7 linked regions of the Homo sapiens genome follow. The protein of the gene in region 5 purifies or fractionates together with the protein of the main gene of each other region. This does not show direct contact. Each region holds a gene or a part of one and is shown on either strand. Other genes may lie near its edges. The genes, in order: CCDC14, ARHGAP29, ZSWIM8, MYO10, JPH4, VANGL2 and POM121.

Region 1 (4,210 bases), on a different chromosome or scaffold from region 5:
AAGAGCAGAAGGAAAGACCCAGGAATCAAGAGGAAAGGACTTGTGGTATGCTAGATGGCCATGGGCTATGATCTCACCCTCTATCATTTTAGATTTCAAAGTTAAAATATTTTAGAGGGCACTTTTCCATTTGATTTATTATAAAATTGTATTTCTGGTAAGAAATAGTATTTGCTTTACAAAAGTTTATTAACCAGTTTTGTTTGAGCTGATCAGATAGTGAAGGTAACTCTTATTACTTTTGATTTTAATCATCTCAGAGGGGACATGTTCAGAGGTTTATTACTGACATCAGATAGTATGATTTATGAATATGATATATTTACTTGTCTATTGTAAGAGTGCAGCTATTTGGTGATATTTAACATTGAGTTTTTACTGTGTGGTAGACATTGCTTTAAGAAATTTACAAGTGTTACGTCATTTACATCTCTCAATAATCTTATAAAATAGGCATTATTAAAATTTTTCTGATGAGGAAAAACAGGTCAAGAGAAGTTAATTTGCGCAAGGTTACTCAGCTAATAAGTGTTAAAGCTTGTATTTAGGTCTGGAAAGTACATTTATAGGAGTAGATCATCTGAAAAGGAAGCATACCCCAAGTCAAAAGGGAAGCATCTGATATCTTCAGCCATTTTCGTAGTCAAATATTGTCTTTTTCTTTAAATTTTTTTTCTATTTTCACTGGTTATAGTATTAAATCTGCCTTTAACTTTTTCTGTTTTTGCTTTTACATGGAAGTTTTACACTTTTAGTAATATTTTTATTTTCAATAAACTATATTTGAGGGATTCTCTACTTTTAAATTTTTAATTATTTTGTTTTTTAAAAAATTAAGGAATACTTCTCATAAATAATTTTAAAGTACATAAATCTCAATAAATTTTTGCATACGTATACACCCCTGTAGCCACCACCTAGATCAAGATACAGACAATTTTTAGCACCCTGCGAGGCTCCCTCCCTGTCAGTACCCTCACCATCACCTAGACCCTCATCCCTGTGTAACCATTTTCCTGACATCTGTTTCCATTTGTGACTTTTACCTGTTTGATGACTTCCTATAAATGTGATTGAACACTGTGCGCCCTTGTGTTTGACCACTTTCAGTCAGCCTTAAGTGTATTAAACATCCAGGTAGTTGTATATATCAGTACTTTGTTGGTTTTTTAATGCTGTATAGTATTCCAGCCTGCGAGTATACCACAGTTTATCCATTTCTGCTATTCATGGCTATTTGGTGTTTTCAGCTTTGGGCTACTGCAAATCAAGCTGCTGTGAACATTCTTGCACATGTCTTTCAGTAGACATAAGCACTCATTTCTATTGGTGTATACCTGGGAGTGGAATTGTTATTTCATAGAATATATGTACGTTTAGCTTTGGTAGGTGTGACAAATATCCATATATTTTTCTAAATTTATTTTGTATACTGATAACCTATGATTTACCAGAATATTTTCATTTCTGTTAATAGTGTTTTAAAAAACCTTTGGGAAGGGGACCTAATTAGGGAAATAGTATTCAGATTGTTATACCAATCTATAGGTAGTGCTATGTAGAAAACTTTGTTGTTTTTTACTTATTACTTTGTTAATACCGATTTCTACCTTGTTCATAGACTAATACTAGGTTCTGTAAGAGAAAACAATGAAGTACAGCCCTGCTTAGAGAAACTTGTGGTTTAGTCAGAAAGGCAGGAGGATGAAAGATAAGCAATATAAGGCAGTGTGTCAGTGGCATATGATTTCTATAGACAATATGTGCTCTAGGGTGGTGAAGAGTAGTCACTAGACTGGAATGATTGGATTGGAAAAGGCTTCATGGAAGAAGAAAACTCAGATGAGCCTTGGTGAGTGGGTAGAATTGGATTGGTAGGAATGGTTCATGAACAATGTTATTGGAAGGTGAGAAAAGCTTGTTGGGTAACTAAATTGGCCTGCCTGAAATGAAAAATTGGAGTTGGGAGTGATGGGGCGATAGTTGGAAAAGTAGCTTGTGGTCAAGCTTTGGAAACTTTAAATGCCAGGCCAAGATTTTGTTTGTTTGGTTGGTTTTGTTTTGTTTTGTTTTTGAGGACCCAAAGCATCAGAATTGTACAAACTATTCTCTTTCCTATTGCATTTTCCCTTGAGAACATGAACTGACAAGGAACAAGGTGAAGGAGTTTGACTGGACTTTAGGGATAATATAACTCCCTTAAAAGAAGTGTTAAAATGAAGGAGAGATTTTACAAATGGCAAGTAGCATAAAAAATGGGAATTGTAAAGAATTAGTATAGATGATTTTTGACTGGGGAAACTTAAACACTAATTACTTTCAGAAAGAATTTGAGATGATTTTCTTTAGTAGGGGTGATAGTGGTAAAGCCCTTCTATGAAGTATGTGATGGATTGGACTACTTCTGAGAGCCCTTTCTTCTCTTAAAATCTTACGGTAAAAGTTTTTGAAGAATCATATTTCAAGAACTTTTTTCTTCTTCCACATTAGCATCTTCAGATAATAAGAAACAGATACCTAATGAAGCTTCTGCTAGAAGTGAAAGAGACACATCAGACCTAGAGCAAAACTGGTCATTGCAAGATCATTATAGAATGTATTCACCCATAATATACCAAGCCCTCTGTGAGCACGTGCAGACTCAGATGTCACTGATGAATGACTTGACTTCAAAGAACATCCCTAATGGAATTCCTGCTGTACCATGCCATGCTCCCTCTCATTCTGGTGAGTACGAATGCTGTTTAAAAATCGTGAGTGTAAGTTCTAATTAAATTGCTTGGTTACTGTATAAAAAGTAGGATATGTGATTAATTTTTTCTCCCTCTTACTTACAGAATCTCAGGCAACTCCTCATTCTAGTTATGGCTTATGTACCTCCACCCCAGTCTGGTCACTTCAGCGGCCACCCTGCCCTCCAAAGGTTCATTCTGTGCGTACAGTTCTTATACTACATAAGTAACTATTTGCTTATAGCAGTCATTCAGGAGGGACTGTTGAATTTATTGCTTATAACTTAATGCACTAGGATTTAAAGACCAGTTGTTTATTTTTTTTTGCTATAAAAGTTTTACATGTTTATGGCCGAGCGCCGTGGCTAAACGCCTGTAATCCCGGCACTTTGGGAGGCCGAGGTGGGTGGATCACGAGGTCTGGAGTTCAAGACCAGCCTGGCCAACATGGTGAAACCCCACCTCTACGAAAAATACAGAAATTAGCTGGGCATGGTGGCACATGCCTGTAATCCCAGCTACTCGGGAGGCTGAGGCAGGAGAATTACTTGAACCGGGACCCAGGAGGCAGAGGTAGCAGTGAGTGAGATCGCGCCACTGCACTCCAGCCTGGGCTACAGAGTGAGACTCTATCTCAAAAAAAAAAAAAAAGAAAAGAAAGAAAAGTTTTACCTATTTATTAATGACAATAATGAAGGAGAAAGAGGGGAAGAGATCAGTAGGAGGAAAAAAATCAACCATACTGACCACCCAAGTACAACTGCTGTTGACACACTGATAGAGTTCTTTCCAATCGTTTAATCCTCTGTATAGGTTTTAGTTTCTGGTTTGTATTTGTTAACATTTGCTTTCCTTTTAAAATAAAGTTATAAGTCAACAATACAGTCTTATATACTGCTGCTTTCACTTAATACTTTATTAAAAACATGTTTATTAATATATACCCTTTGAATTTTTAATAACTTGTTAATACTGTATTTTTTGGATATACCATAGTCTGTGTAACTACTATATGGTTAGGAGTAGTAACCATATATTTGAGTTTCTTATAATTAATATTATTATTAATAAGCAAGTTTTTAATATCAGAAACTTACTAATATTTTTAGCTTAAAAGTAAGTTGGATTTTTTTCCTCAGTGCAATAAAGATTCTTGTTTTTTAAAGCTTAATTTACCCTGTAATATGGGAGCATTACAAGGCCATGACTAAAATAGACTGTTTACAAATACCACAGATGGTTTAAAAGCATCAAAAATTAGTCCACTTTGGGAAATTACATCATAAGAAAATAAGTTTAAACATACAAAAAGTTTTTGCACAAACATATTTACAGAAATGTTTCAGCAGTGAAAAACTGGCTGTTACTTAAATGTCTAACTGTATGGGAGTAGTTACACAGACTATAGTATATCCTCAAAATATAGTGGTAACTACTTATTAAATATTCACAAAATGAATATATTAATAAACATGTTT
Region 2 (4,210 bases), on a different chromosome or scaffold from region 5:
ACTATTTTACATGTAGTTACTTAAAGTAAATTATTTCTGCTAAAATAGGTAAATTGTTTTAATGTCTTTAATTTTTGTAACCATCTTTACCAGTGACAGTGACCAATTCTCTAATTTACCAAGTTTAAAAGCTGTCATAACTAAACAGAATGACGTTATTAAGTAAACTGCAAGAGTGATGTTTGGTTAGGCTAATAGGCATTTTGGTTAGTGATTTGTAAAAGAGCTGCCCAAAAAAGACACTTTGAATTTTTGTTTTGTTTTTGTTGATGGGAAGGAAGACTTAGATATAATAATAATGCTCAAAAATTGCCCTAGATTCATTTTAGAAATGATGTATGCATATAAGGATTAATGTTAGATAGGTTTGAAACTAGTTTAAATGTAGAAGTTAGATTCTCAGAAATAATTTGAGATTGACAAAAGGACAGTGAATAAACAAACTTTAAAAATTATAAAGTGTGGTCCCCAGTTTAATAATCAGGAGGAGCAATAATAGAAATCCAACTTTGATTTCAGTTTTATGTAATCTTCCCTCAGCTTCATATACTTTTCTTTTTGAAACATACCATTTTAGAGAGTTTTTTAAAAATTTATATTTTCACTTCAAAACATTGCAACAACCCAGAGTTATTTTTGTTTCTATAAAAATTAATTGAAACTTTATAAGTTTATAAGCCTATCTGCAGATAGTTCTAAGTAGTTCATTCCTCATACGCCAAGCATTGTGCTATGATCAGAGAACACATGGTTAGCAAATAGACATACATGGTCTTGATTTCCATGAGATTATACTCTAGCTAGGAAGACATGATCTATTTGAACTGTGGTATGAGCAGTGATGAAAAGTAGAGGATACTATGGAACATCTCACAGGAGATTCTACTCTGGTTTGATGGTAGTGGTTTTGCTGGGGGATGGGGATGGTCCAGGAACGTTTCTTTGAGGAGGTAAGCTTTGAGCTGAGATCAGAGTGAGTAAACAAAGGAGAAGGAATATTCCAGGCAAATAGAATTACATATAGACAGGACCCTGAGCTGAACAGTTGGTGTTTTTCAAACTGTAGGGTCATGACCTATTATGTGTATGAAACCAAGTTGGTGAGTTGCACCCAGCATTTTTAAAAATGAAATGGGATGGAATTTTTAAAAACTCACATACATCCCATGGAGCCTTACCCAGAAGCATGCCACACACAAACATAATACACTTAACATGTATTATTATGTAAAATTATTTCCTGGTGAGAGTCATCGTAAACAAATACTGTTGGAAGAATGAGAAGGAGGTGTGTGTGGCAGGAGTGTTGAGAGCCAGCAGGTGTGTCTCCATATGACATTGCACAGGTAGGTAGGAGCCAGATCTCATGTTGAGCCTTGTAGAGCATGATAGCTTCTCACTTATACTTTGGAAGGGTTTTCAGTAGAGAAATGACATTATGAGATTTATGTTTGAAATGTTCACTCACTACATTTGTGATGAGACAAGAATGGATGCAGATAGATCATTAGGAAAGTAGTATAGTAGCTCAGAAAAGAAATGATGGTAATTCACTAGTGTGGTAGCAGTAGAGAGAAGTGGGTTGATTAGAGAACCCTGTAGATCAGAAAGAAAAATGAACTATGGAGTTGGGTGAGATATAGGAAGGAGTAAATGATACAATAATGTATCTTACATATGACTAGAAACGGATATTACATAAAACTTCCTAGTGGGCCAGGCATGGTGGCTCATGCTTGTAATCCCAGCATTTAGCTAGGCTGAGGTAGGAGGATCACTTGAGCCCAGGAGTTTGAGACCAACCTGGGCAACATAGTGAAACTGTATCTCTACAAAAAAAAAATTTTTTTTTTAGCTAGCTAGGTGTGGTGTTGTGCCCCTGGAGTCCCAGCTACATGGGTGGCTTTGGCGGGCAGATGGCCCGAGCCCAGGAGTTTGAGGCTGCAGTGAGCTATAATCACACCACTGCACTCCAACCTGGGTGATAGCGTGAGACCCAGACTCAACCCTTCCCCCCTCCAAAAAAAAAAAAAACCAAAAAACTTTCTACTGTAAATTTTATAGAAGTCCTTAGTCATCTACCATTTTTAAAGTAGCCAAATATTCAAGACAAAATACTTGAAAAAAAGTGTTAATAATAAAGTGTGAGTTAATTTAATTCCTCCGGTTATTTCCTTTTTGATTTCCAGAGATACAAACAAGATTAGAACTTTTAACTCTGGAAAGGTAAAATGAGGGTGAAGAAGAAAATAACTATGATTTTCTTGAGTTCCAGCTATGTGCCAGTATTAGGTGTTTTAACATATGAAGTCTTCTAATTTTGTGATCCCTTTTCATCCTCACACAAGCCTGTAAATAAATTGTACTGGTCACATATCTAGAAAATACTAGAGCCAGGATTCAAATCTAAATTCTTCTCATACCAAAAGATTACCTTTTTACTACCATCCTGAGATTATCAAAAATATTGCTCTGATGATCACACGTGTTTATTTAACCAGTCAGAGTATGTCAGATTAGTGGGCACCCTTGTAACTTATTTTCAACAAAGAAATATCCTTGATGAGACTTGGTAATCCAGGATGTGTTGTGTGTGTGTGTCTGTGTATATGTATGTATATGCATTATTAGGAAAAACTAACTGTAATTGAACTTCTATGTTCTCGACACTTCTGTATCATCGCGTCATGTAATCCCTACAATCTCATGAGATAGGTGTTGTCAGGATGTTACTCCCATTTTATAAATGAGCATACTGAAGTAAAGAGATGAATAGATCATACAATAAGTGACAGAGGAGGATTTTAAGAACAGGTATTTCTTTTTTCAAAGCCCATATCTCATCTTTATTTTTGAAGGTGATGTCATGGAAGGAGAATATGACCTTCTACTAAGTGATGTTTCAGAACAACTTTTACAATTAAATAAAATTCTATACCCTAGGAATCAAGAGGAAGTTATTAAGAGCATGGATTTTGGCATCAAGGCAGATACAGGTTTAAGTCCTAGTTCATTATCAGTTGAGAGCTTAAGGCAAATTTTTAACCTCTAAACCTCAGGTTCCTCATTTGTGAAATGTAAAGAACAGTAGTTTGCATGTCAGAGTTGTCGGAATTACTGGTATTTAATAAATGGAAACTGCTATTATCAATAATACAGTGATTGATTATTGATTTTTGATTTTTAAAAATTTAAAAATAGGATACCAAGGTGAGCTGTGGGCTGTTTGTGAAAATCTAGTGTAATATTTCCCTGGCTGATTTAGTTTTTGTGTTTCTTTCTCTCTCCTCGCTTGTTTTTGTTTTGTTTCTTGCCCCCTTAAGGATTTCAGTTTTTCTGACTGTTACATGAAAGGATGATTGCTCACAAACAGAAAAAGACAAAGAAAAAACGTGCTTGGGCATCAGGTCAACTCTCTACTGATATTACAACTTCTGAAATGGGGCTCAAGTCCTTAAGTTCCAACTCTATTTTTGATCCGGATTACATCAAGGAGTTGGTGAATGATATCAGGAAGTTCTCCCACATGTTACTATATTTGAAAGAAGCCATATTTTCAGGTTTGTCACTTTTCTATTAGCATTCTTGCTGGATAGTTTGTAAAATTTTAAATGCTGGCCTAGCAGATAAGTTTGTACACAGTGGTAGGAACAGGGTATTCTGCTTTAGTTATTTTAGTGCTTTTTTCCCCAAATCTTTGATGGTTACAGTGTAAACTATTTTATAATCAGATAATAGTGTAATACCTAATAGAAACTTCAGTGTGAGGGAATAAGAATACAAAAAAGAAAAATATCTTTGATTCCTGTGGTTGGGTCCATTTGACGTAGGAAAATTTGACATCATTGGAATTTTAACCTTTCTGTTAATGGTAACACAGTGCATTGATTGGTCTTAAATAAGCTGACTAATGTTTATAATTTACATTGTTGACACTGTTACCTAAATTCACCTTTCCACATTTTAGATGAAGTTTTGGTATCTAAAATGACTGCATTTTTTTTTTTTAACAAAAATCAGACTTAATTCTGTTTTGCTGATCTGTAACATCTTGAATTAAGGGCTAATCACAGAATTCTGTCTAGTTAGAAATGAATAATGGAGCATGAGACTCTGTTCCTCTAAAGTAAAAGATTGTATATCTCTGACTTGTTCTTAGTACCTGTCTTTCAATGTTTAGTGCCTCTTAGGTCTAAATTTGATGGCAAGG
Region 3 (4,054 bases), on a different chromosome or scaffold from region 5:
TTATGAAGGTTTTGAAAAGCACACCAGAGCTTAGGCTGGATATAATAGTCAACGAAGACTTCTATAGGTGATGTGGGTTGGACCAAGGGAACCCCTTACTTCATATGCTGATGGCTTGGGAACCCTGGCCTCTTACCTTTGCTGTCTTGGGAATTATGACTACTCTCAATCCCCATAAGGTCCTCTTTCTCGCAGGCATGAAGACAACAGTGAGCGAGGCAGAACATCCCCTCTTATGTGAAGGCACACGTCGGGAGAAGGGTGACCTGGCATTAGCACTAATGATCACTTACAAGGACGACCAGGCCAAGCTTAAGAAGGTAAGAGACTGGGGCTGGGTGCGGTGGCTCATGCCTGTAATCCCAGCAGTTTGGGAGGCAGAGGCGGGCAGATGGCTTGAGCCCAGGAGTTTGAGACAAGCCTGGGCAACATGGCGAAACCCCGTCTCTACCAAAAAATACAAAAAATTAGCAGCTGGGTGTGGTGGCACATGCCTGTAGTCCCAGCTACTCGGGAGGCTGAGGTGGGAGGATTGCTTGAACCCAGTAGGCAGAGGTTGCAATGAGCTGGGTTCACGCCACTGCACTCCAGCCTGGGTGACAGAGCAAGACCCTGTTTCAAAAAAAAAAAAAAAAAAAAAAGGCAAGGTACTGGGGCCTTTGACAGGCAGAGAAAGAGAGCACATTTTACTACCTTTCTCAGGGAGTTTCCAGTACAATGAGAAAAGTGCTATTTTAGGCTGGGTGCAGTGGCTCATGCCTGTAATCTCAGCACTTTGGGAAGCAGAGGCGGGAGGATCGTTTGAGACCAACCTGGCCAACATAGTGAGACCCTGTCTCTACAAAAAATTAGAAAATTAGCCGGGCATGGTGGCGCGCGCCTGTAGTCCCAGCTACTCGGGAGGCTGAGGTGGGAGAATTGCTTGAGCCCAGGAGTTTGAGGCTACAGTGAGCTATAATCATACCACTGCACTCCAGCCTGGGCAACAGAGCGAGACCCTGTCTCTTAAAAAAAAAAGAAGAAGAAGAAAAAAAGAAAAGTGCTCTTCTGCCCATAGGAGGTAAGTAGGGAATCTTGGGGACATCTCATAAAGAATAAGAGAAGACCAATGGTTCTTATAGGAGTGCTTGGGCATGGGGTGGAAGAAGAGAAGCAGAGGGCATAAAGTCATTCATTCACTTATTTCAGTATTTATTGACTATCAGTATATTCTGCCCTGTGGTGTTAATGGAGGATACCAAGATATGTTGGGGTTAAATAAGTTACAAAAAGACATGTAAACCAGGAGGTCATCCTGTGGTTGTAAGTGGGGAAGGCTCCCTGAGGATGTAGCAATTGGCTGTTTCAAGGAGAAAGGAAGGTAATAGAAGTCAGGAGCTAAAGGGCATCCTGTCACTGCTTCTCTGGAGGTCACTGCTTCTGTCTTCCAGATCTTAGACAAACTCTTGGACCGAGAGAGCCAGACACATAAGCCACAGACGCTGAGTTCTTTCTACTCATCTAGCCGCCCAACCACAGCCAGCCAGAGGTCTCCTTCAAAGCACGGGGGCCCATCTGCCCCAGGGGCCCTGCAACCACTGACCTCAGGCTCTGCAGGGCCTGCTCAACCAGGGAGTGTGGCAGGGGCTGGGCCAGGCCCCACTGAGGGCTTCACAGAGAAGAATGTGCCTGGTGAGGTGGGGGCACTGGGCAGGGGGGATGAATGGTGTGGACCTATGTTGAGGTCCCCTTTCCTGGGCTCATCCCAGCGTCCTGTTTTCCTCACCTAGAGAGTTCCCCACATTCCCCCTGTGAGGGTCTTCCATCTGAGGCAGCTTTGACCCCAAGGCCAGAAGGGAAGGTTCCTAGCCGCTTGGCACTTGGCAGTCGTGGAGGCTATAATGGACGGGGATGGGGGTCCCCAGGACGGCCTAAGAAGAAGCACACAGGTAGGATAGCCTGTGGGCTAGCATAGAGGGAAGGATAATCCTGAAGGTTGGAGTCTTAACATCTGGGACTCCTGACTTCTGAGACTGACTTCTCTTGGGGGTTAGGCATGGCCAGCATTGACAGCAGTGCCCCTGAAACAACATCGGATAGTTCCCCCACCTTAAGCCGGAGACCACTTCGAGGGGGCTGGGCCCCCACCTCCTGGGGTCGAGGTCAGGACAGTGACAGCATTAGCAGCTCTTCTTCGGACTCCCTGGGCTCCTCATCCTCCAGTGGAAGTCGCCGGGCCAGTGCCAGTGGAGGAGCCCGGGCGAAGACTGTTGAAGTTGGCAGGTCAGTGGGAAGAACTCCCCATCTTCCCTGATCTGGCCCACCCTCAGAGCCACACCCCTAGTGCAATCCAACCATTGTCTCCCAGCATCCTCACTTTCCCTGGTCCTTCCCAACCTACCCGGATGCCCATTTCAAAGAAACCCCAACCCCCGTCCCTACCCCATTGCCCCTTCAGGTACAAGGGCCGCCGCCCCGAGAGTCATGCCCCTCATGTACCCAATCAGCCATCAGAGGCAGCTGCACACTTCTACTTCGAGCTGGCGAAGACAGTGCTGATCAAGGCAGGGGGCAACAGCAGCACTTCCATTTTCACACATCCATCTTCCTCAGGGGGCCACCAGGGTCCTCACCGCAACCTGCACCTTTGCGCCTTCGAGATTGGGCTTTATGCCCTTGGCCTGCACAACTTTGTTTCTCCCAACTGGCTCTCACGTACTTATTCTTCCCACGTTTCCTGGATTACAGGTAAATCATTTGACCTGACTTGGGTATGGGAGGGGGATTAATTGGTGGGGATAAGACCCTTATCTTTGTGGGGTTACTGATCTGATAAAAAGACATTATTCTCACACCCCAGTGGTGCCCACACTAACCCAACTCTGCCCTTCTCTCCTTTCCCCTAAGGCCAGGCCATGGAGATAGGCAGCGCAGCCCTGACTATACTGGTAGAATGCTGGGATGGGCACCTGACACCCCCTGAGGTTGCATCCCTGGCTGACAGGGCATCACGGGCAAGAGACTCCAATATGGTGAGGGCGGCAGCAGAGCTGGCCCTGAGCTGCCTGCCTCACGCCCATGCATTGAACCCTAATGAGATCCAGCGGGCCCTGGTGCAGTGCAAGGAACAGGTATTTCTACGGGCAATCTGGGAACCTCTTCTGGGGCATCTGGGCAGGGAGGTTGGGCATGGGAAAGCTAAGGGCCCAGCTCTTGATTCCCGTATCCTGGAGTTTACAGATGATTGTTGGTCCTCTCATGGCAACATTTTACCCATTAATGTGCTTTCACACCCATCTTTCCTTTACCTTACAACTCAAAGGTTAGGTTTATTTCTATTTTACAGATAAGGAAATGGAGGCCTACGGTTTAGGGACCAAGATGATCACTCAGGATAGAAAACTTAGGGAAGGCCTCATACATCTAAGACTTGAATGGGAGGGGGCTGTTAAATTAGTTTGGAACTGGGACTATAACCTGGGTCTTGACTCATTTTGGTCAGTATTTACTCAGTGTGTGAAGCACTCACTGCTCTGATAATGGACTCTAAGCATTGACACTGACCTCTGATGATTCCCTGGGAATGAGACAGCTCTGAGGGAGACATTGGAATCTCATCTAACACCTTCCATGTGGTAAAGGCCTTTCCCCCTTAACACTCTGTGCCCCTCTCTTCCAGGACAACCTGATGTTGGAGAAGGCCTGCATGGCAGTGGAAGAGGCAGCTAAGGGTGGGGGCGTGTACCCTGAAGTGTTGTTTGAGGTTGCTCACCAGTGGTTCTGGCTGTATGAGCAAACTGCAGGTGGCTCATCCACAGCCCGTGAAGGGGCTACAAGCTGTAGTGCCAGTGGGATCAGGGCAGGTGGGGAAGCTGGGCGGGGTATGCCTGAGGGTAGAGGGGGCCCAGGGACTGAGCCGGTTACAGTGGCAGCGGCAGCAGTGACAGCAGCAGCCACAGTGGTGCCCGTCATATCGGTGGGGTCTAGTTTATACCCGGGTCCAGGACTGGGGCATGGCCACTCCCCTGGCCTGCACCCCTACACTGCTCTACAGCCCCACCTGCCCTGTAGCCCT
Region 4 (4,210 bases), on a different chromosome or scaffold from region 5:
ATCTCTCTGAAAAGTGGTTCCAGGGTTATTGTTGTTGATTTTCACTTTTCCTTTACTATTTTTAGAGAAAGAGAGAGAGAGCGAAGAGAAGCCGAGCTCCGCGCCCAGCAGGTAATGAGTGCAGTGACAACTTAGCCTCTTGTGTTTCTACTTCCTTCCCACTTCTAATGCTTGGACTCTAGGATTCAAAACTGAATTAAAGTAGAAAGATAACAGGAAGAACAATTTAAGAGGATGTGTTTATGATCCAATTTCTGACCTATTACAATTGGGTAAAGCGTAGTGAATGGCTGAGGTTTTAGTGTGCATCACAAGAGTATAATTTCTCTAAATCGGTATAACCAGCGTGTTAGTTTGCTAGGCCCACCACAGCCAAATACCACAGACTGGTGGATTGAACAGTGGAAACTGATTTTCTCCCAGCTCTGGAGGCCGGAACTGCAAGATCAAGTTATCCTTAAGTTTGATGTCTTCTGAGGCCCCTCCCCTTGGCTTGCAGGTGGCCGTCTGTCCAGTGTGTCCTCACGCAGCCTTTTTTCTCTGTGTGACCTAGTCTCCTGTTCCCAAAAGGACACCAGTCATCTTGGATTGGGGCCCACCCTAGTGAACTCATTTTAACTTAGTCTCCCCTTTAAAAGCTGTATCTCCAAATGCAGTCACATTCTGCAGTATTGGGGTTAGGACTTCAACCTATAGACTTTATGGGGACACAGTCCAACTCATAATGACCATATTTCATCCTGGTTGCAAAGCGGGAGCTATGCTTGGACTTTTGTACTGAAGCCTTCTGAAATCTCCCTTCTGCTTCTGTCCAGGAAGAAGAAACGAGGAAGCAGCAAGAACTCGAAGCCTTGCAGAAGAGCCAGAAGGAAGCTGAACTGACCCGTGAACTGGAGAAACAGAAGGAAAATAAGCAGGTGGAAGAGATCCTCCGTCTGGAGAAAGAAATCGAGGACCTGCAGCGCATGAAGGAGCAGCAGGAGCTGTCGCTGACCGAGGCTTCCCTGCAGAAGCTGCAGGAGCGGCGGGACCAGGAGCTCCGCAGGCTGGAGGAGGAAGCGTGCAGGGCGGCCCAGGAGTTCCTCGAGTCCCTCAATTTCGACGAGATCGACGAGTGTGTCCGGAATATCGAGCGGTCCCTGTCGGTGGGAAGCGAATTTTCCAGCGAGCTGGCTGAGAGCGCATGCGAGGAGAAGCCCAACTTCAACTTCAGCCAGCCCTACCCAGAGGAGGAGGTCGATGAGGGCTTCGAAGCCGACGACGACGCCTTCAAGGACTCCCCCAACCCCAGCGAGCACGGCCACTCAGACCAGCGAACAAGTGGCATCCGGACCAGCGATGACTCTTCAGAGGAGGACCCATACATGAACGACACGGTGGTGCCCACCAGCCCCAGTGCGGACAGCACGGTGCTGCTCGCCCCATCAGTGCAGGACTCCGGGAGCCTACACAACTCCTCCAGCGGCGAGTCCACCTACTGCATGCCCCAGAACGCTGGGGACTTGCCCTCCCCAGACGGCGACTACGACTACGACCAGGATGACTATGAGGACGGTGCCATCACTTCCGGCAGCAGCGTGACCTTCTCCAACTCCTACGGCAGCCAGTGGTCCCCCGACTACCGCTGCTCTGTGGGGACCTACAACAGCTCGGGTGCCTACCGGTTCAGCTCTGAGGGGGCGCAGTCCTCGGTAAGTACCTGCCTGGCGTGTCCCAGTGAAATGGGTGGCCGGTCACACCCACCCCTGTTGCATCCTCAAGTTGAATGAAGATACCCGTAGGATATCTGTGCAAAGATTGCAGAGTCGTGGTCTTAGAGATCATCTTAAACCTTTTGCTTATTCCATAAGCCAATTGCATTCATAAGTAGAACTTTGATGTGCCTGTTTCAGTTTTAGCACAAAGCCTAGAGCTGAGCTGTGCCCAAGACTTCAGAAAACTGGCTATTTATTTATTTATTGTTGTTGTTGTTGTTTTTGAGGTGGAGTCTTCTCTGTCATCCAGGCTGGAGTGCATTGGCAGGATTTTGCCTCACTGCAGTCCCCACCTCTCGGGTCCAAGCTATCCTGCTGCCTCAGCTTCCTGAATAGCTGGGATTACAGATGCCCGCCAGCACACCGGTCTAATTTTTGTATTTTTAGTAGAGATGGGGTTTTACCATGTTGGCCAGGCTGGTCTTGAACTCCTGACCTCAGGTGATCCACCTGCCTCGGACCCCCAAAGTGCTGGGATTACAGGCGTGAGCCACCATGCCCGGCTTAAAACTGGCTTTTTAAATGGAACTTTTGTTTATTTTATTTTATTTCTTCCTTCCCTTTTTTTACAATTTGAATGGAACTTTTAGCTTTGCCGTGCTGCGTTAGGAAATGAAGACACATCCTGAACTGGAACAAGACTTGCCAGGGGTGAACTGGCAAACTTTCCTTGTACTAACTTCACAATCCAAACCACACGATGTTATTTCTTATAGTGGCTGTAAAGGAAGAAGCTGCAGGGCTTAAATGTACTCTTTTCCAGTTTCTGGATTTATCTGTAGTTTACTTTTATTTTGTCGCTTTGGTCGTGCATTGAATGTTCTCTTGACTTTCAAAGATTTGAAAATATATTTAATATAGTAATTCAGAGGGGGTGAACTCTTGCATGGTTTGATTAAAATTATAGCCTTAAAAAGCATTGTTAGTTTTAGGGCAGATAGCCTTTGGATTCAAGTATATCTTGTCTTTCATGTATCAATTCAACTGACCATTTGACCTTAAAAGTTGGTATTTTTAATTCCGAATTATTTGTGTGCTACCGTAAATCAGGCGTATTGCTTGTCAGTTGTTTTTTTTCTTTTTCCTTTTCCCTTTTTTTTTTTTTTTTTTTTTGAGACTGAGGCTTGCTCTGTTGCCCAGGCTGGAGTGCAGTGGCACGATCTCTGCTCAGTGCAGTCACTGCCTCCTGGGTTCGAGTGATTCTGCTGCCTCAGCCTCTTGAGTAGCTGTATTTTTGTATTTTTTCAATGATGATACATGCTGGGTATCTTCGTGGCTTGCTTTGTGGCCTTTTCCCTCACCGTTGGCTTCTCTCTCTCGGTCCAGTTTGAAGATAGTGAAGAGGACTTTGATTCCAGGTTTGATACAGATGATGAGCTTTCATACCGGCGTGACTCTGTGTACAGCTGTGTCACTCTGCCGTATTTCCACAGCTTTCTGTACATGAAAGGTATGACTGCAGCCGCCATGGAGTCTGGGTTAGGGGGAGAGCGAGGCGTTATTTTATCCGGGCTGATGGATGGCGGTGGGAAATAACGGAGGTGTTATTGTATCTGGGCTGATGGATGGGGACTGGGAAAGTCGTTCTACCTACCCTTACCTCAGTGTTGGGCCACTTAGATGAATGAAGGGACACCTTGTCATGTTGGTGTGACATGGGTGCTGTGGTCCTACCAGCATGAACACAGTCGTGACTCCCCTGGTTTGGTGCAGAGTGGCAGGACGAAGCATTTGCAACCACTGCCTCCAGTATCAGTCCTTCTCCCCTGTCTCTCCCTGTCTCGTTTTCCTTTCTTAGCTCTTTCTTCATCCTTCTATTTTCTCTCCCTCTCTCTCCCACTTTCTCTTTCACTGTCTCCCTCTCTGTCTCAGTCTCATTGCTCTCTCTCATATATACAGACATACAAACCAATGTGTGTGTTGCTGCTGCTGCTGGAATTGGTCGAGACCCATTCTCATGATAAACTGCATGTTCTCGGCCGGGCGTGGTGGCTCACGCCTGTAATCCCAGCACTTTGGGAGGCCGAGGCGGGTGGATCATGAGGTCAGGAGATCGAGACCATCCTGGCTAACACAGTGAAACGCCGTCTCTACTAAAAATACAAAAAATTAGCCGGGAGCGGTGGCGGGCTCCTGTAGTGCCAGCTACCTGAGAGGCTGAGGCAGGAGAATGGCGTGAACCCAGGAGGCGGAGCTTGCAGTGAGCCGAGATCGCGCCACTGCACCCCAGCCTGGGCGACAGAGCCAGACGCTGTCTCAAAAAAAAAAAAAAAAAACTGCATGTTCTCTCCTGCCAGGGATATTAGAGAGCCTAAAAGGATGTGCTAGACATGGGGGAAAGTGAAGATCTCACTGAGGCCCACTGCTGGCTTGAACTGCTCACCATACCTACTTCATGATGAGCATTTGCATTGTATGCTTTGATTGTTACTAACATTTGAGTATACTTTGCTGAA
Region 5 (4,210 bases):
GAGGGGATGGGATCATTACCGAAAGGGGAGACCCACTCTCATTCCAGTTCCAGAGCTCAGGAAAGCATGACGGGGGGCAGTGGGGTGGTAGCAGTGACAAGAGGAAGAACAGTGTCATAACAGAAGAGGCTGAAGGAACGCAAGATAGGAAGTTCTCATGCCAGGAAATCTGTACGGGTAGAGGTAGGATTAATAGTAAGGAGAAGTGACAGTAGAAAGAGAAAGGGAGGCAGAGACTGTTAACATAAGGGAGACGGTGGCTCTGAACGAGGGGGCGGGGCAGGGGCGAAGCTGCTTGGAGGGGAGGATCAAGGTACAGGACCCTGTGCTAGACCCCACAGAGAGGCCTGTGACTCCAGGGGGGTGAGAGGGGTTAGTAACAACAGGAGGTGCTAACTGCAAAGAAGGTGGTAGTATAGCTCATAAGCACCAAGCAGGACTGCAGGGGATGTGCTAAAAGAGTGAGGTCTCGACTGTCACTGGGAAGGGGGCAGGATAGGAATGGAATTACACAGTTCCAGGAGGGCCTGGCCCTTGCAACTGGAAGAAGTGTTACTACAGGACGTAGCAGTAGAAGGGTGTGAGAGGAGCAGGAGGGTGTGATGGTGGCAAACACAGCCCAGGTCAGGGGGAGGAAACCAAACGGGAGCTGCCCTGGCCTGCCAGGAAGGGAAGCAGCTGGCAGAGTGTGGCGAAGGGTGACGACTCCAGAGGAGAGGAGGATGTGATGTAGAGGGGACAGGGGCTAGGGGGCTGGAGCATCTGAGCAGGGACTAACTTGAAGTGGGGGAAGTTCTGCTAAATCCCTGTCTCTGGACCCGACAGGGCAGCAGACGCCCTCCTAAAGGCAGTGGCAGCCAGCAGTGTCGCTGAGAAGGCCGTGGAGGCAGCTCGAATGGCCAAACTGATAGCCCAGGACCTGCAGCCCATGCTAGAGGCCCCAGGTGAGGCATGGACAGCTGGGGGGAGGGCAGTGAGGCCCCTAGGGAGCTAGAGAGGCTCAGGTGTGGGGAAACAGATGAGAAGCCCTGCAAGGGAAGTGGGGATGGGAAAAAACAAGGAATGAGGGTGCAAGGAACACAGGGTGGGGGCCAGACCTGGTAGTCTGGGGAGTGGGACTTGGGAATGTATGCAGTAGGATAATGGGGGGTTTGGGGTCTGGCGGTGAGAGGCTATGAGCCTGGGAATTCCAAAGTCCTGGGAAGTGCCCAGTCAGGAATAAAGCTGCAGCCACTCCAGCCCAAGGCCAGTTAGGCCCCTCTGATTCTCAGCTATCCCTACCCAGGCCGCAGACCCAGGCAGGACTCAGAAGGTTCCGACACGGAGCCCCTGGATGAGGACAGCCCTGGGGTATATGAGAACGGACTGACCCCCTCAGAGGGATCCCCTGAACTGCCCAGCAGTCCTGCCTCCTCCCGCCAACCCTGGCGACCCCCTGCCTGCCGGAGCCCACTGCCTCCTGGAGGGGACCAGGGTCCCTTCTCCAGCCCCAAAGCTTGGCCTGAGGAGTGGGGGGGGGCAGGCGCACAGGCAGAGGAACTAGCTGGCTATGAGGCTGAGGATGAGGCTGGGATGCAAGGGCCAGGGCCCAGAGACGGTTCCCCACTCCTCGGAGGCTGCAGCGACAGTTCAGGAAGTCTTCGAGAGGAGGAGGGGGAGGATGAAGAGCCCCTGCCCCCGCTGAGGGCCCCAGCAGGCACGGAGCCTGAGCCCATCGCCATGCTGGTCCTGAGGGGCTCGTCCTCGAGGGGTCCTGATGCTGGGTGCCTGACAGAAGAGCTCGGGGAGCCCGCTGCAACCGAGAGGCCTGCCCAGCCGGTGAGATCCTCTGTCCCTGCTGTGTGCCCTCTTCTCCCAAAGCCTTGCCTCCCACCCTTTCCAGAACTGTCTGATCACCGGGGGGGCTTTTTATCTCACTCGGCTTCCTCTGCCTGGCCAGTCTTGGACCACATCCCACCTCAAAAAAATAGAGGGCGTTCGAGCTGGAAGGAACCTTACACACCTGCAAGCCCAACTCCCTCATTTGACAGATGGGGGAACTGAGGCCCAGAGCACTTAAAGTAACTTGCCCAGGCCGGGCGCGGTGGCTCACGCCTGTAATCCCAACACTTTGGGAGGCCGAAGTGGGCGGATCACGAGGTCAGGAGATCGAGACCATCCTGGCTAATACAGTGAAACCCCGTCTCTACTAAAAATACAAAAAAAATTTAGCCGGGCGTGGTGGCGGGCGCCTGTAGTCCCAGCTACTTGGGAGGCTGAGGCAGGAGAATGGCGTGAACCCGGGAGGCGGAGCCTGCAGTGAGCTGAGATCGCGCCACTGCACTCTAGCCTGGGTGACAGAGCGAGACTCTGTCTCAAAAAAAAAAAAAAAAAAAAAAGTAACTTGCCCAGGGTTGTAAACTAATAATTAATGGGAGAGCCAGAACATTTTTCCCCCGTTCTCCTTCCATATCATTTCCAGCTCTCAGTTTCCTACTCCACCCCCACCCCCACCTCCGCACTTTCTCTCTTTGGTGCCCAGAAATAAAAAAGGAAAAGATTGTTCCCTCCCTACCCTGACTCTCCCTCCCTCTCCCGGGAAGAAGTTGAAATAGAGAAGAAGGCAGAAAACCGGGAGAGGCGGAGTTTGCCCAGAACCCTCTACTCTGATTGGGCTCTAGGCCTTCTGTTTCCTAGCAACCACATCCTCACCCCTTCATCCCTCTGCCTTACTGCAGTACTGGCTGCTGCTGCCAATGTCTGCTACTAAGGCCAGGCACCTCCTGCCTGGGACACATGATATGCTGATGGGAGGGGACTAGAGGGAGGAGGTGGAAGGGCTGTCCCTGCATTGAAGGTGTCAGAGGAAAGGTGGGGCCCTGCCTGGGAGAAGAGGGGGTTTTGCAATCCAAAACAAATGTTGGCGATCCCCCTGCTCCAGGCTGTGCAGGGAGGTGCCTGAGACCCTTCAGCTCTGCCACCTCAGTCAGGGCAGGAAGGTGGGCCCTGTCCTCGGGGACTGAGTCTGCTTCCCCCTCTGTCTCTCTAGGGAGCTGCCAACCCCCTGGTGGTGGGAGCCGTGGCCCTCCTGGACCTCAGCCTGGCATTCCTGTTCTCCCAGCTCCTCACCTGAGGCTACTTCCTGGCCTGGTTCTGGCTTTGGTTGCGTGCCTCTTCACCCCTTTGACCTGCCTTTTTTCTCTTCTCCTCTTCCTGGCTGTGTTTTCTCCTATCTTTCTTTCTCTTCTTCCTTTCTTTTCTGTGCTCCTTTGTTTTTTTCTCTCGCTTTTTCTTTCCCTGTCTTCTTTCAGATTATCTCATTTCTTCTGGATCTGTCTCTGTATTCCTCACTCCCTTCCCCATCCCAACCCCTTCTTTCTCTAGATTGTTTACATATGAAGGGCTTTTCTCTCTCAGAGTTGCTGTCTTCTCTGAGACACACAAATCTAAGTCAGACCATTGCTCCACGCCCTCCCACCTTTTCTTTAGACCTCAACTTCGCTGCGGGTGGGGGTTTGGTGTCCTAAGGAGACTCCTGGAAGCTGAATGGAGAGGAGGAAGAAAATGAAGAAGGAGTGATTGAATGTCGGGCAAGGCACTGGCTGAGCTGCTGTGGCTCCCTAGCCTAAGGGGCCTGCTGTCCCTCTGAGGCCTAGTGAAAAAGCTGCAGGAGGTGCATCCTCCACCTCTAATCTTGGAGGCTATTATCTTACCTCCAAGCACTGAGCTGGGTTACTGCCCAATTCCATCCTTCCCTGAAGGAGAGAAGGGAAGTGAAAAGTAGAGTAACTCCCCAGCATTTCCCTCTTTTTCTCCTCATCGGCCAGCCCCTCCTCCAGCCCCCTCTGGTGGCATGCCATGCCAAGAGCAACGTGTAAAGGAACAGAGAATATCCAATGCAGTCAAGTCCACCCTGCCCAGACTTTGCCACTGACTTCTCCCACCCTTCTGTCTCCCCCATAATAGTTTATTTGGTTGGTCTGGACTCACTTGTGGCCTTTGATTAAATTCCTAAGGGGCCTGAAGAAGACATTTCTACTGCAGAGGGTTAGAGGCACTTGAGCAAGGCCCCCACATCCCAACTCTGGGAGTTGTGGTGGGAGGAGGCACTTCTGGGGGATAGGACCAGACAAGATAACAGGAGCTCACATGGAAGCAGAAGCTGTGACAAGTTTAGTAGTCCCAAAATGGGTTATATCCCTTCCCCCTTTACATCAGAATCTTGTGAAAT
Region 6 (4,210 bases), on a different chromosome or scaffold from region 5:
CCATCTCTACTAAAAACACACACACACAAAAAATTAGCTGGGTGTGGTGGCACATGCCTGTAATCCCAGCTACTCGGGAGGCTGATGCAGGAGAATCGCTTGAACCCAGGAGGAGGAGGTTGTGGTGAGCAGAGATCGTGCCATTGCACTCCAGCCTGGGCAACAAGAGCGAAACTCCATCTCAAAAAAAAAAAAAAAAAAAATTATGGAAGTCCTATCTAAGTTCCTTCCAGCATGCCATGATTTTGGCAGAAGCTAGAGGAGGAGCCTCCAGGGCAGGAATGGCATGAACTGAGGCACCCAAGGGCTATGAGAGCAGAGGATCCCTGTGCAGAAGCACAGCAAGGTGCAACCAGGAAGGTAAGGCAGACAGCAGCCAGGCAGGGCTTGTGCAGGCCACGCTGCAGTGCTGGGCTGGGCAATAAGCACCTGTTCTCCAGGCATGGAGAGCCACTGAAGGAGTAAACCTGATCAAAGCAGCACAGAGAAGAACAGAAGACCCCAGGGGTAAAGGGGTGAAGGCGTGAAGGACACTGTGCAGACTCAAGGCCACTCTGGGTCTCTGGTCTGCAAGGCCACCTCTGCTGGGCCATCTAAATGTCTACAGTGCAGAGGCTACCTGTCTCTGGAGGCAAGAAGGTGGCCAGGCTGAGGTCCCCAGGTGTCCCTCTAAGTGTGGTCTGCTCAAGCTGTTTCTCTGCAGTGGCTGGAGGCCATCCCACGGAGGAGTCCCAAGACCACCAGCTGCCTTCAGCACCCACCCTTCGCTCCTGGGACAGCCTGGGGATATGGAATCACAACCTGACACCCAGGAGGTTGAGGTTACAGGATGAAGGCAGCCCGACAGCACCAGTGATTAGGGAGGTTGAGGAACCTCCTCTCTACAGGATGGGGAACGAGTCTGATGTGAAGATAGAAAGCAGATGCACTGACTGCCTTCAGCTCAAAGCCCTGGGTCTGCTCCCCGCCCTCTGACCCCTAGACATACTGCCCACCCCCTCCAAGGACCAAGGGCTTGGGATCTCCTCCCCAGTAGCAGGTGAGCTGGTCATGTCTCAGGGTCACTTCAAGAACTCAGGAGGCCAGGCCCCAGGAAGAAGGGATTGGGAGAGAGGGAAAAAGAACATTTCCTTCAGGTATTGACCTGCTCCCAAGGCCCAGGAATTCCCAATGTCAGCCACAGAGATTTCTTCTGAGGAAAAAGGAGCTGGGAATCTCCAGCCCCCAAAGATGATCCCAAGGGGAATGAGACTTGGGCAACCTCAGTGTCACCTAAAATCCTGCCTCTGCCCTATTCCAGGACTGTGTTCTGCCCACTGTCCTCCCTACCAGGTGAGCACAGTGGGCAGCAGAGGTTAGAATAGAAAACCTGCTCACCCCTGTCCTGGAGAACTCTCTCCTGGGGTCCCTGCTCCATCCCTCAGCCTTACTTCTTGTCCCTTGGGCTTTCTCCATCTACTCTTCCCATACTCCTTTCCCAAGATCTAGGTGACGCCATTCTACAGGCTGACACCAGAGGGCACAGAGTGCCCACATCTCGAGGCTCCAGGAATACTCAGCTTTGCTCACACATACCCCAGGCCCAGCCACCACCACCACCCTCCTGCTCCAGACTCCCAGCGGGCCTGACTGGCTGGCGGCAGCTCCAGAGGAGCTGGCCAATTCCCATCATACAGCCCAGGTCACCCCCCACTCCTCTGGAGATAAGGAAGGAGAGGCTGCTGCTTCCAGAGGGATCTCTATACTGAAATTCCTGAAGGTCCTACCTTAAGACACTAAGCCAAGCTAAGTGTAACACAAAACACACTCCCCGATCTGATGGCTGTCTGAGACCAGGTTTCCAAGCCCTCCCCCACTCCGTGGAGCCTCCAGCCCCTCAGGAGCAGTCTGAAAATGCCCGGTCTGGACCACCGCATCCCCAGTGCTCACCCGCTCATCCCCTCGTGTGGACTCATTGTCCAGCAGGGGCTCCCCGGGAGCCTGGATTGTCACCGACTTGTCCCCTCGGCCCCCATCTCGACTCTTAGAGCGGTGTCGGTCCCGGCGGTCCCTGCGGCAGGAAGCCAGAAAAGGCACAGAAAGTCCAGTGGTGGACCAGGGTCTTCTCAGCAGCCACTCTACCCTACCACCCCTGCACGTGCCCACCTCTTAACAGCCCCCAACCCTCCCTCCGCCACGCATGTCACCCTGCATGCCTGCCCACCTGTGCTTGCGGGAGCTGCGGGAGTGGCCCGACTTGTAGGAATAGCCCGAGTACTGGGACTCGGTGTCCATGGCGTCTGAACGCCGCGCCTTGTAGCGCTCCAGGGCCGCAGGCTGGGGCCTCTTGGGGGGCCCCACAGCCACCTCCTTCAGCACCGGCTTCTTTAGGCCAAGAGGCACCTTCAGGAAGTCAACTGTCACCCTGAGGGACTCTATTTTGCTGGACGGGTGGGCTTGTCTCAGAGAAAATCCAGCGACGCTCCTGGTGAGAGGAAGAAGCTAGTTAGAGGCGGCTCGAGCTCCCTGTGGGGTCAGGGCAGAGGAAGACCATCTGCACACAACAGCCACAGGAGGCTCAAATGAGCCCAGCCATAGCCTGAGAATATCTCCACCCAGGTTCCTGCTGTCCACTGGGCCCAGTTCCTCCTACCCTTCTCTAGAAAGAGCCCTGCCAGGCTGTGCCAAGGACTCAGGCATGGGGGAAGATGGCCAGCAAAGGCTCCCAGGGCAGGAAGGCTCACCCAGAATGACCCAACCCCAAGCCCTCTGGAAGGGAGGAGCAGGGCATTGCTTCCCTATTCTCAGCCAGGGAAACCGAGGCATGAAGAGGGCAGGTTCTGGCCAGGCCAACAGGCTGAATCAGTGGACACCTCAGAGAGCAGAAAGGAGCGGGCTTCTGTCCAGGGGCTACCCCAGGCCTCTTCTCCCCATGCTACACCTCCTCCCCTCACTCATACTTTCTGAGTGTGCCCACAGTGGGCTGCTTCCCTTGATACCATCTCCCCAGCATTTACTTCAAACACACCCAGTGTTACCGGTAAGATCAGGCTGGCAGCTTCCTTGAGGTTGCCACACATATGCACAGCCCCAGGTGAGGGTGAGGGGTGGAAACTATGGATAATATGGTAGGGGATGGGAGGAGAAGACAAGTTTCTACTTGCCTGAAGTTCTGAAACAGGCAAGGCACAAGTTTATCTGCCTATTTATAGGCTTATCTTCAACCATACTTCACCTTCTGATTCTGCAGAGGAGAATGACCTCTCCTCTCTCTAACCCCCACCCAAATCCTGCTCATTCTTCAGAGCCCGGCCCCACCCCCTCATAGGAGCCCCCACCTACTCTAGACCCAATGTTATCTTCCCTGCTGACCCTGACTCCCCTAACAGCCATCACCATCCACCGAGCGCTTACTTCCTATCTTCAGTCATTGACGCATCAAATCTTGTTTGAGCACCTTCTATGAACCATGTATTCTGCTAGGTATAAAGTGGTATAACAGACCCTGAGTTTACAGTCTAGCAGGGAAGGGGCACACCAAACAAGTAAGCAGATAAGTATAAACGACCGATTGCAGGCATGATGGAAGGGCAGAACAGCAAACTATGAGAGACACCCATGGAGTAAGGGCTACCACTTTAAACTTAGCGGTTCTAGAAAGTCTGAGAAAAGGACACCTCAGCAGAGGCCTGAAGAAGAAATAGGAATTAACCAAGCAAAGAGTGCAGGAAAATGCCCATGGAGCAGAGGAATCACATGTGTGAAGGCCAAAGGCAGGAAAGAGCTTGTTGTATTTAAAGAACCAACAAAGGCCAGTGGAGCTAGAGTTGAGGAAGAGAGTGGGTGGTAGAAGGTGGCACTGCAGAGACAGCCAGGCACCAGGTGAAGAGCTTGAGCTTTATTTTATTCTAAGGCCACAGGAAAACTTTGAAGGATTTTAGCTATGCAGATATGGATTGAAAAGAGGGAAAAATAGAAACAGGGAGATCAATAAGGAGGCGACTGCAGTAGTACAGGCTTGCTAAGGGTAGAGCCACAGAAGAGTGAGTAACAGTCATGTTTGAGACTTAATGTTGGTGGTCAAATCAACAGGACCTAATGAGCGGGAAGGGAGAGTTAAGAATCCCCGGCCTGAGCAAGGGAGCAGATGGTAGCACCATCAGTAGGGTAGGGAAGACTGGGGAGGAAGCAGCCTTGTGAGGGAAGATAATTAGTTCAGCTTCTAGCCTGC
Region 7 (4,210 bases), on a different chromosome or scaffold from region 5:
CTCAGCTCACTGCAGCATCCTGAGTAGTTGGGACCACAGATGCAAACCACCACACCCAACTGATTTTTCAGTTTTTTTGTAGAGACAGGGGTCTCGCTATGTTACCCAGGCTGGGCTCAAATTCCTGGGCTCAAGCGATCCTCCCACCTTGGCCTCCCAGCATGCTGGGATTACAGGCATGACTAACCATTTAACCATAAAGAATGTTTTTTTAGTCACTTGAAAAGAGACTTTGTCGTGTTGAGGGTCAGATGCTAAGTTATCAGCAGGCTCAGTCATGTCCCTCTTGATTTTTAGCTCTGGAAGAGAAATGGCCCCAGTTCATCACCCTTCTCTAGCCCAGCCTCCTCCCGCTCCCAGACACCGGAGAGGCCAGCAAAGAAAATAAGGTACTTGGCATTCTCCTGCAGTTTTCATTTGCTGCGTGGACAGGCGGGGGTGAGGAAAGGTGGGAAACGAACCTGGCTCTTAGGCTTTGTGCTGCTGTGACTTGGAGAATCAAAGAAACTTAAGTCCCTGAGAGGTACAATGCAGTACCCACCCGAAGTGCTGTCATCCCTACAGTCTTGGATACTGACTCCAGTGGCCTCTGGCTGTCGCCTCCCACTCCAGCATGAGGGATCGGGTGCAAGCACAGAGGCCATGCAGAGTGGAGAGCAGAGAGAGTCAAGTCAGCGGGCAGTCGCCTTCAGGTTCTTGACTCGAGCTGACCCCCTAGGTGCTTGCAGTTGGCTGGAATGCCACTCCCTCAGGGATCACATCTGTGTCTAGAACTCCCAGGGACTTGATAGGTTGTAAGTAAGGTTTGAAGATTATTGTTTTGTGCTTGTTTTAAGACAAAAGCTGTCTTCATGGCCTCTGTGAACAGCCTCCCTTCATTCTGTTGGAATTTCCTGTTGACTTTTTTTATCCTGGCATACTGAGATCTTAAATGATGGTTGTTTTAGACATTGGCCACTTGGTAGTTAGGAGGGTGTGAGAAATTATTTAATACTTCAGCCAAGAAGCCTTTCTAGACTAAATTGTTCCTTTTTTCCTGACAGAGAAGAGGAGCTGTGTCATCATTCCAGTTCTTCAACTCCATTGGCAGCAGACAGGGAGTCCCAGGGAGAAAAGGGTAGGTTGCTGAGCCAGGAGGAGGGGCTGCTGTTGGTGGTGGAGGTGTTTGTGGAGGATGTAGAGATTAATACCTATTGAAAAAAGGTCTTGAGCATTGCTATGTCTAAGGCATGTTAGATACAAAGAGAGAGATTTCCTCTCCTTCAGAAGTTTATAGTCTGATGAGGGAGAAAGGCTACAGACAGGGACTAACGATTGGATAGAGGTAAGCTCAGTTTGAGTCACCTGTGGGTGATCCCAGTAATTACTGCACAGTAAGCGGTTTGTGTGCGCGCCTTAATCTTGCAAACACCATCCAAGCAACCAAACCATAGAAGATTGAATCTTTTCAGAGATACCCATTGAAAACTCAATGTGAAATGCGAAGTGGGTAGACACAACCATCCATTTCTGGAAGAGGGAAGGAAGCAAACGAGTCTTGATTTCTTTCTTTAGCTGCAGATACAACCCCAAGGAAGAAACAAAACTCGAATTCTCAGTCTACACCTGGCAGCTCTGGGCAGCGTAAGCGGAAAGTTCAGCTGCTGCCTTCTCGGCGAGGGGAACAGCTGACCTTGGTATGGTCTTGTCCATCTACTCCTGCCCTCCCCGGCTTAGCTCTCCTAAGTATTAGGAACGCTAAGGACAAGTTTCTTCTGATTTTTTTTCTAATTTATTTTTGTTTTTGTTTTTTGAGACAACATCCCTCTGTCACCCAGGCTGGAGTGCAGTGGCTCGATTTTGGCTAACCGTAACCTCTGCCTCCTGAGTTCAAGCAATTCTCCTGCCTCAGCCTCCCAAGTAGCTGGGATTACAGGTGCTTGCTACCACGCCTGGTTGATTTTTTGTGTTTTTAGTAGAGATGGGGTTTCACCATGTTGGCCAGGCCGGCCTCAAACTCCTGACCTCAAGTGATCCAGCTGGCTTGGCCTCCCAAAGTGCTGAGATTACCGGTGTGAGCCACCATGCCTAGCCTTCCCGTTTTTTCTGATTGGCCTGACTTCTTCTTTTTCACTTTGGTAGCCTCCACCTCCCCAGCTTGGCTATTCGATCACTGCCGAGGACCTAGACTTAGAGAAGAAGGCTTCATTACAGTGGTTCAACCAGGCCTTGGAGGACAAGAGCGGTAAGGAGCACAGATTGTTGCACACTGGAGAGGTTTCAGGTGTCTGTTTTCTTTGGTTTTATTTTGGTGTTTGAAAAAATGGGTTTCTCTGGGAAAATCCCAAGTAGGGTTCCATGTTTTCTTGTGGTCTTTCTCACCTGAGATATCCGTGTTGGTCTTCACGGGAACTGGACAGCAGGGACCACTGCAATTGAGGGCAGGCATTCCTCCATGAGCTGTGCTGAGAGCCTGCTCTCCGACAGGCATGTGGAAAGAAGTCCCAGACAAGCCAGGACTGCTTCACCTTTCTTTCTTTCTTAGATGCTGCCTCGAACTCTGTCACTGAGACCCCACCTATCACTCAGCCTTCATTTACCTTTACCCTGCCTGCTGCTGCACCTGCCTCCCCACCCACCTCCCTCCTGGCCCCAAGCACCAACCCACTGTTAGAGAGCTTGAAGAAGATGCAGACTCCCCCGAGCCTGCCACCCTGCCCAGGTGAGCTGGAGTGGGGCCGTGGATCCAGCCTTCTGAGCAGCATCCCCGGCTTGAGTTGGAATAAGGGCGTCGTGCCTGTCAGTCGCTGGAGATTGCTCTGCAGGCCGAACGCACCCTGGCTCAGCACACCGGAGCGGGCCCACGTTTAACAGCGCCAGAGCCCGCATCAGGAAGTGTTAGAGAAGGGGTGCTGCGACGCTCAGGATCTGAAGCCTGGCTCGTAGCTGCCCTGAGCCTCGCCTTCCTCATCTGTCAGATGAGAATGATCTTCCCTGTGCGGCACCTCTGAAGTGTGAATGTGGTGGCGTGGTCAGGATATCCTTGCCTGTCAGAACCACTGGTCCAGAACAGCACTGCTTCCTTTCCCTCCAGCACTTCGAGGGCTGCTGGTGTTCCCGGCCCAGGCCTTCACGGCACTGCGCGCGCACACCTCTTTATCAGACGGTAACCTGGGGTTCGTACGCACCCTCCCTGCTCAAGGGCAGAGACTTCCCCATTCATAGTTGTGTGCTCTTAGCGCCTGGCAGGTGAGCTTAGTAGGCAAATAAAGTATATCTAGATTCATACGTGAACTTCAGAGTTCAGACAATTGGACTGTCTTAGTCTCTACACATTAGGCCCCCATTTAGGCCCCATTTTATCCCCTTCTGTCTGATGATCTGTGAGGTAGAAATAACACTTCCTTGATTTACTGTACAGGCCTGTAGTGTAGACTTAGCTGAGTTTATTGACTGACTCTTGGATCCCAGGCTCTGTGGTAGGCGTGGGGAGGACACTGAAATACTGAATACCATCATCTTTGAAGTGTTTATTCCAATTTCACATTTTCTATTCTTCTTCCAGAATCTGCTGGAGCAGCAACCACTGAGGCCCTCTCACCTCCAAAGACACCCAGCCTCCTACCCCCGCTGGGTTTATCACAGTCAGGGCCGCCAGGGCTGCTCCCCAGCCCCTCCTTTGACTCCAAACCCCCGACCACTTTGCTGGGGCTGATCCCTGCTCCATCCATGGTACCAGCCACTGACACCAAGGCACCTCCAACCCTTCAGGCAGAGACGGCTACCAAACCCCAAGCCACATCTGCCCCGTCCCCCGCCCCCAAGCAAAGCTTCCTGTTTGGAACACAGAACACCTCACCTTCCAGCCCTGCCGCCCCTGCTGCATCTTCAGCACCTCCCATGTTCAAGCCCATTTTCACGGCTCCACCCAAGAGTGAGAAGGAAGGCCCCACACCGCCTGGCCCTTCAGTCACAGCCACAGCGCCCTCCAGCTCCTCCCTCCCCACGACCACCAGCACCACAGCCCCGACCTTCCAGCCTGTCTTTAGCAGCATGGGGCCACCTGCATCTGTGCCCTTGCCTGCTCCCTTCTTCAAGCAGACAACTACTCCCGCCACTGCTCCCACCACAACTGCCCCGCTCTTCACTGGCCTGGCCAGCGCCACCTCTGCTGTGGCTCCCATCACCTCTGCCAGTCCATCCACAGACTCTGCTTCGAAGCCTGCGTTTG

Evidence for each region.
Region 1: the proteins of JPH4 (region 5) and CCDC14 purify together in Homo sapiens (affinity purification with mass spectrometry; 2 studies listed by BioGRID and IntAct, with this or other methods). This does not show direct contact.
Region 2: the proteins of JPH4 (region 5) and ARHGAP29 purify together in Homo sapiens (co-immunoprecipitation; 3 studies listed by BioGRID and IntAct, with this or other methods). This does not show direct contact.
Region 3: the proteins of JPH4 (region 5) and ZSWIM8 purify together in Homo sapiens (co-immunoprecipitation; 3 studies listed by BioGRID and IntAct, with this or other methods). This does not show direct contact.
Region 4: the proteins of JPH4 (region 5) and MYO10 purify together in Homo sapiens (affinity purification with mass spectrometry; 2 studies listed by BioGRID and IntAct, with this or other methods). This does not show direct contact.
Region 6: the proteins of JPH4 (region 5) and VANGL2 purify together in Homo sapiens (affinity purification with mass spectrometry; 2 studies listed by BioGRID and IntAct, with this or other methods). This does not show direct contact.
Region 7: the proteins of JPH4 (region 5) and POM121 purify together in Homo sapiens (co-immunoprecipitation; 3 studies listed by BioGRID and IntAct, with this or other methods). This does not show direct contact.

The regions. Positions count from the first base shown.
Region 1 is NC_000003.12:123,947,413-123,951,622, reverse strand, and holds part of CCDC14 (coiled-coil domain-containing protein 14), read left to right. Parts: exon of another isoform or gene 1-2,490; coding exon 2,491-2,727; intron 2,728-2,837; coding exon 2,838-2,932; intron 2,933-4,210. UniProt on the Homo sapiens protein: Negatively regulates centriole duplication. Negatively regulates CEP63 and CDK2 centrosomal localization.
Region 2 is NC_000001.11:94,230,757-94,234,966, reverse strand, and holds part of ARHGAP29 (rho GTPase-activating protein 29), read left to right. Parts: intron 1-3,323; 5' UTR 3,324-3,355; coding exon 3,356-3,560; intron 3,561-4,210. UniProt on the Homo sapiens protein: GTPase activator for the Rho-type GTPases by converting them to an inactive GDP-bound state. Has strong activity toward RHOA, and weaker activity toward RAC1 and CDC42. May act as a specific effector of RAP2A to regulate Rho.
Region 3 is NC_000010.11:73,795,344-73,799,397, forward strand, and holds part of ZSWIM8 (zinc finger SWIM domain-containing protein 8), read left to right. Parts: intron 1-195; coding exon 196-320; intron 321-977; coding exon of another isoform or gene 978-1,060; intron 1,061-1,170; exon of another isoform or gene 1,171-1,430; coding exon 1,431-1,671; coding exon of another isoform or gene 1,672-1,676; exon of another isoform or gene 1,677-1,769; coding exon 1,770-1,928; exon of another isoform or gene 1,929-2,033; coding exon 2,034-2,262; intron 2,263-2,437; coding exon 2,438-2,727; exon of another isoform or gene 2,728-2,886; coding exon 2,887-3,110; exon of another isoform or gene 3,111-3,658; coding exon 3,659-4,054. UniProt on the Homo sapiens protein: Substrate recognition component of a SCF-like E3 ubiquitin-protein ligase complex that promotes target-directed microRNA degradation (TDMD), a process that mediates degradation of microRNAs (miRNAs).
Region 4 is NC_000005.10:16,698,444-16,702,653, reverse strand, and holds part of MYO10 (unconventional myosin-X), read left to right. Parts: intron 1-65; coding exon 66-111; intron 112-815; coding exon 816-1,691; intron 1,692-3,080; coding exon 3,081-3,204; intron 3,205-4,210. UniProt on the Homo sapiens protein: Myosins are actin-based motor molecules with ATPase activity. Unconventional myosins serve in intracellular movements. MYO10 binds to actin filaments and actin bundles and functions as a plus end-directed motor.
Region 5 is NC_000014.9:23,568,536-23,572,745, reverse strand, and holds part of JPH4 (junctophilin-4), read left to right. Parts: intron 1-825; coding exon 826-944; intron 945-1,285; coding exon 1,286-1,818; intron 1,819-3,028; coding exon 3,029-3,112; 3' UTR 3,113-4,210. UniProt on the Homo sapiens protein: Junctophilins contribute to the formation of junctional membrane complexes (JMCs) which link the plasma membrane with the endoplasmic or sarcoplasmic reticulum in excitable cells.
Region 6 is NC_000001.11:160,413,902-160,418,111, reverse strand, and holds part of VANGL2 (vang-like protein 2), read right to left. Parts: intron 2,465-4,210; 5' UTR 2,275-2,464; coding exon 2,204-2,274; intron 2,051-2,203; coding exon 1,930-2,050; intron 1-1,929. UniProt on the Homo sapiens protein: Involved in the control of early morphogenesis and patterning of both axial midline structures and the development of neural plate. Plays a role in the regulation of planar cell polarity, particularly in the orientation of stereociliary bundles in the cochlea.
Region 7 is NC_000007.14:72,938,293-72,942,502, forward strand, and holds part of POM121 (nuclear envelope pore membrane protein POM 121), read left to right. Parts: intron 1-297; coding exon 298-389; intron 390-1,043; coding exon 1,044-1,117; intron 1,118-1,554; coding exon 1,555-1,676; intron 1,677-2,121; coding exon 2,122-2,224; intron 2,225-2,524; coding exon 2,525-2,701; coding exon of another isoform or gene 2,702-2,719; intron 2,720-3,544; coding exon 3,545-4,210. UniProt on the Homo sapiens protein: Essential component of the nuclear pore complex (NPC). The repeat-containing domain may be involved in anchoring components of the pore complex to the pore membrane. When overexpressed in cells induces the formation of cytoplasmic annulate lamellae (AL).